2 separate regions of the Homo sapiens genome follow, and region 1 is linked to region 2. Evidence: fine-mapped expression QTL. A gene starts in region 2. The other region holds a variant in brackets. All regions are shown on one strand. Distances are from middle to middle.

Region 1 (2,912 bases), 450 kb after region 2:
GAACCAAAACAAGGAGCATTTAGGATCTGGGTGAATACGAAGTGTGAGGGGTGGGGCAGGGGGATATTGAAAGAAAGTCGAGGGTCCTACAACCGAGAAGGAGTTTTGACTTTCTTTTTCCCTACAACAAGTAGCGGTCACTTTGAACTTGTGGAGGATATTTCAAAGATCACAAGGAAAAAATCTACAAGAAAGGTATGTGGGACCATAGAAGGAAATCAAAGACTAACACATGACTTTCGGTGGCTTGCAAAAGAAAAGATAAAGGAAGCAAAGAGACAAAATACACCACAGAGTTAGAAAAAAATTATACTTTCACAAGTCTATCAAAGGGAATAAAATCCCCAAAGGGAAGTATACCGCTAAATAAGGAAGGCAAATATAAGAAGAAAACTCAAACTATTAAAATGCTTAGCAGACCACGCTGCAAACTGAAACCTTGCATGCTCGTTAGAAATTACTAACACACAGTATATTTTCCCCTAATTATTGAGATACCTAGGTTGACCATCAGCAAATTGAATTCAATGTGATTAAACTTTGCTCATTCATCATCTCCCCTCACCAGAGGCTAGTGTGGAGCTGAGCTGGCTTCTGAGGATGACTTCAGATTGAGAGCATTGGGTATCTGAGCCTGGAAGTCAACAGCCAAAGGGCATTCAGCTTTGCTTCAGATCCTTCCAGAGGTTACCTCCCCTCAGCCCACCTCCCACCTCCAACATCTCCCCACCCTGCCTCCCCCGACACAACATCCCCAGACAGGAATACCCTGGGCTTCTCCCTTACCCTTCCCTTCACAACTATTTACTGAGTGCTTGCTGTAATAAGTGCCTGGCACTATGCTAGGCCTTGAACCTACGAAAGTGAACAAAAGACACACAGTCCCTGTCTCATGTGGAATCACGTGGTAATAGAGACACTAATCAGATGATCAGACAAAGATTTAATTATACATTGTGGCAGGCGCTGAAGAAGCACCGTGAGAATATACGACGTGGGGTTCAGTCTAGCCTGGTGGGTCAGCGCTTTCCTGAGAAATTAATGTCTGAGCTCAGAACTGAAGGACAAGCAGTAGCAGCCAGATTTGGGGAGTGGGGCTGGAGAAGAGGATTCCAGGCAGAGGAAACAGCCTGTACAAAGGCCCTGAGGTGAGAGGGAATGTGGTGCACTTGAGGACTGCAAGAAGGCCAGAAAGCAGGTAACAAGAAGGAAGGGACAATGCAGGGCTGGAGAGTGAATTGAGGCCCAACAAAGCAGGGTTTTACGGACCACCGTAAGGGCTTGTGTGTACTCCAATAACAATCAAGAAGGGTGTTAAAGGGGCAGGGAGCATTTGACACACTAGATATTTTTAATTTGTTGTAAGTAGAGCCAAGATCAACTATAATACATAATTTTCAGGATTCAAAGCAAAATAAAAACACAGGGCCCTTTGTTTAAAAATTATTTAAAATGTCAAGGCTGTAACAGCAGAGCATTATAACCAAGCAGGCCCCTTCTAAGCCAGTCCTGGGAGGAGCATCCCTGAGTCCCTGGGATGTCTTGGTCTTGGGTTAGTCGGCGTGGCTCCAGGACTGATCTCAGCCTTTGCATAGTCAGGCCTGCTCTGAGCTCAACAAGAAAGCAACATGGGCCCCTTGCTCTGCATTTTAAGATGCCATGCAAGGTTTCCAGTCTTCAAATTCTTTAAACTGAGTAATATAGAGAGAGAAG[T/G]TAGTTGAGGTAAACAGAAGAGCTATCAAGCAGAGTGAGAGTGATCTGGCTGTGAGGCTTCCTGCACTAACACAATCCACAGATCTCTCACCAGAGACTCTGGAGTCCAAGGCCCAAAGTAGGGTGAGGCAAGGGAAGCTCCTGGGTGCAAAATTTAAGGAAGCACTTACTTTCAAGGAAGTACAAGTGTCGGTTCGGGACCTGAGATGTAGTGCCTCCTTAAATTTACCCCTCCCACCCCACGTCTGGCTTGCCTCTCATCCTAGTTCCAGCCCTGGTCTGAGCAAAGCACCAGAGGTGTAAATCTGGAGTTTTGGAAGCCCAGCAGGCAGCAAGTCAGCTCTATGCCAGGGGTAGAGAAATGCCTGCAGGTTGAGAAAGCAGGCCATCTTTGGGGTGGAAATACCTTCTGAAATTCAGTACATGGGGTAGGCCCTTTGGAGCTATCTACTTGCTAACTCTGTACTAGCAGCCTTGAGCCAAGTAAAGATCTGGGTGACCCAATGGGCATCTTTGCTGTGTTATAGTTTGTATATTACAGTGACCTATATAGGGTCTGCTCAGTTGGAAACTCAGTTTAGCCGACATACTTGTCTAGGAATTCAGACAGTGCATTGCTGATAGGAAAACAGATCTATCCATGTTAGCTCAGCCTTGTCTTATCAATGCTGTTATTTATTTCAAGCAAATCTCAAAACACAGGCTCCGACTCTTTTATGTGAAGAGAAATAAGATGGTGATTTGGTTAATCTTACCTTTTCTGCCATTTCAGTACTTGTATTCTCCTACCCTCCTTTCCCTGTCCCTTTATGAAGAAGAGAACCTCTTCATGCCCCACTGTCCATTACAAAACATTAAAGATGATTTCATTTGTGGCCAAGTAAAAGCTCTCTGCAAGTCCCATCAGAAGCCTGGCCAGGAAAGCAGGTAAGTTTTCCAAAGTGCAGACTATCTCCATAAAGTAGTTTGACCCCAGAGCCCTGTCTGATTTTGTCTGTCTTCTGTCTATTGCTTTGTCTGGATTTTTGCTCCCCTTTGCATTGAAAAGTGCAATTATTCCACAGCAACTGATTTTCCTGTTAGAAGATGGAAAGGCCGTTATTAATTTGTCCTCATGTTAATATACTTCATTTCCTTTCATCTTTATTACCCATCTATATATTCCTCAGAGGTCTTGTTTACATAAAACAGAACTCCTG
Region 2 (2,912 bases):
TCATTTATAAAACACGGAATTCTTTTTTTTTTCTTTTTTTTGTGGAGGGGGATGGAGTCTCACTCTGTTGCCCAGGCTGGAGTGCAGTGGCATGATCTCAACCCACTGCAACCTCTGCCTCCCAGGTTCAAGCAATTCTCCCTGCCTCAGCCTCCTGGGTAGCTGGGATTACAGGTGCCCACCACCACGCCCAGCTAATTTTTGTATTTTTTTAGTAGAGATGGGGTTTTGCTATGTTGGCCAGGCTGGTCTGGAACTCCAGACCTCAGGTGATTCGCCCAGTTTGGACTCCCAAAATGTTGGGATTACAGGCGTGAGTCACGGCGCCTGGCCTAAAATCTGGAATTAACACACTGTTCCTCATAGGACTCCATTTCTCTTTCTACCTTAGGCAATCCAATTCTACTCCTCCTGCAGTGCATGAATATATATTAATAACTTTTTTCAAGAGAAAGATCAGTTGCAAATACTTATCAAATGTGTTGATACATGCAAATTAGGCTTTCCCTGCTGCCCTTTCAAAACACAGAGAGAATAAAATGACCTATCCTTAACCCAATGACTAAGTGTTTGTGTGAACTTGAATAAACCTTCACCTTTCCTGTGCCTCACTGTTCTTATCTACAGAGCAGAGAAGTTAAACCAGATGACTTCTAGTTAAAATAATGTATGATTTAATGATTCAGTTAATTAAGATTCTATTGGGAGGCCGAGGCGGGGGGATCACGAGGTCAGGAGATCGAGACTATCCTGGCTAACATGGTGAAACCCCATCTCTACTAAAAATACAAAAATTAGCCGGGCGTAGTGACGGGCGCCTGTAGTCCCAGCTACTCGGGAGGCTGAGGCAGGAGAATGGCGTGAACCCGGGAGGCGGAGCTTGCAGTGAGCCGAGATTGCGCCACTGCACTCCAGCCTGGGTGACAGAGCCAGACTCCATCCTCAAAAAAAAAAAAAAAAAAAAAAAAAAAAAAAAAGTTTCTACCTGTGCACATATTTAGCTTCAGATATGATCTGTGTGAGAAGACCATCTTGAAGGAAGTCAAGAAATCTAAGAATGAGTCCCGTTTTCAGCATCAAGTGGATATATAATCATTAGAACAGGGAATAACCTCACTTTCCCCGTTCATTAAATGGGGTAACACTCGTGGTCATCTCTCAGGGTTGTTTTGAAGACTGAACAAGATAAGTCATGTGAATGTGTTTTGTAAGTTGTATAGTTAGAGGAATTAGAAGTGTAATCATTGTTAAAGGAGATGTTTGAAACACTGCATATATCATCACTGCCAATGGAGATAACAGGCTGAGTCCGGGTTATTTCTCGTTAGGACGCGTCCTTGTGCTGAGTAAATGGTAGGTTACCTTATCAGACTGCGCAGTGAGTCTTGATCCGGGAAGCGCCTAACTCCTGAATTTTTACCAGAAAATAAAGGACTACACTAAAAAGAAACCAGAAAGAACGTGGGAAGGAGGGAATTCGCAGGCAGAGGAGGAGGAAAAGCAAAGACGAGGCAAAGTTAGGAGAATGAAAGGCGAATTCAGAGGAATGATAGGGGCGGGTAGGGCCGAGCCGGCCTGGCAGGACAGGGTGGTGGCGAATGAGCTGCTAGCCCGGCGACCTGCCCGCGGCCCCGGCGGGGGAGGAGGAGGGGCTTGGCAAAGGGCAACGCCAGAGCCAGACTTAAAAGGGAGATGATCCTAGCTAGTTGACGCCACCGGTGACCTCCGACGCCCCGGGCAAGAGAACGCCAGGAGGGATAACGGGAGGAAGGCCGGCCGGGGCCGCCAAGGCAGTCCCAGGCTCGCGTAGGAGGCGCGCAGACCTTGCACCTTGCACCTTCGCAGCGCCCTGCACCCCGCCACCATGTGCGAGCTGTACAGTAAGCGGGACACTCTGGGGCTGAGGAAGAAGCACATCGGGTAAGGGCACCCTGGCCCGGAAGTAAGTGCAGAGAGGGGGCAATAACGAGTGCAGAAGGTGGAGAGAGAAAGCCGGCTAGGGAACAAACGATGCGCTGCAGCCGCACTCCGTGCCCGCCGCGCCTGTGCACGCGCCCCGCGCGCCTCCACCTGCAGGGGCCGCGCGGACTCCCAGAAACGCTCCTGGAACCCGGAACGCTGGGCTTCCTGCCCGCTCGAAAGTCCCCGGCTCGCTCTGCAGCCGGCGGACTAGCGGGGGCTGCCGGCCGGCTAGAGGGGTTGGTGGATGACGGCCAATAGCCCTAGCAGACACCATTCCAGGGATGGGAGATGGGTGGAAGAAGGATAGCGCTCCGCCACCCCCACACAACTCGAAAGTTTTTGGAAACTGTGAACTGAGAAATATTTTTTCATGATGGCTCCGCAAACAAACCAATTCTGACAATTTTTACTTAAAGTGAGCTTTTTCTTCTTGCATGCTTGGTTAAGTGATGAAGGGTTTATCTAGCCAATAGAAAAACTTGAAACCACCTTCTGTTAGAAAAGCAGAGACTTTATTTAGATCCCTCTTACCCAACTTGCTCTCCCAAGCTGTGTTCTTCCCAGCCTGCTTGTCTTGCCCCCGTCACAAACGACTTAGTAATATAAAGGTGAGTATATAAGACCGACAGGGGCTCTAGCTCTCGTTGGATGTCATATTCCCTGTGTGGACCTCTGTCAAATTAATTGTCTCTTCTATGAAAGTAGGAATAACATTCTACTTCACAGGAGCAAGAAGATGAGATTAATATGTTAGTGTTTTGTGCGTGGTTTTTAAAAAGATACGTGTAAATATAAATGATGATTAATGACCCCGAATACTGTAAAGTCAACCGTCTGCAATATTCACTTGAAATGAACGACTGCAGCCGGGCCAGTGGGCATGAGAGAGCACTTGGGGTTACAAGGAAGAAAACAATCCGCATCCTCTTCGGAGGAATGCTGGACAGTTT

Alleles and levels. Alleles are on the strand shown, and positions count from the first base shown. SD is a standard deviation of normalised expression in the study named.
As copies of T replace G in region 1, the expression in stomach of the gene that starts at base 1,710 in region 2 goes up (moderate effect, 0.49 SD a copy in GTEx).

The links. PIP is the estimated chance that this variant, and not a neighbour inherited with it, causes the effect. A credible set is the group of variants that fine-mapping cannot tell apart.
Region 1: its variant is the best candidate, but not a certain one, in a credible set for the expression of ETNPPL in stomach (GTEx, PIP 0.62).

What each region holds. Positions count from the first base shown.
Region 1 is chr4:108,312,748-108,315,659 of GRCh38, reverse strand. No RefSeq gene overlaps it. Among named protein-coding and RNA genes, the nearest start is that of LEF1, 150 kb to the right of the region's middle. The variant T/G (reference allele first, on the strand shown) is at 1,714.
Region 2 is chr4:108,761,851-108,764,762 of GRCh38, reverse strand. ETNPPL (ethanolamine-phosphate phospho-lyase) reads left to right here and starts at 1,710. Exons shown (of 13, transcript NM_031279.4): 1 at 1,710-1,920. The coding sequence starts at 1,865.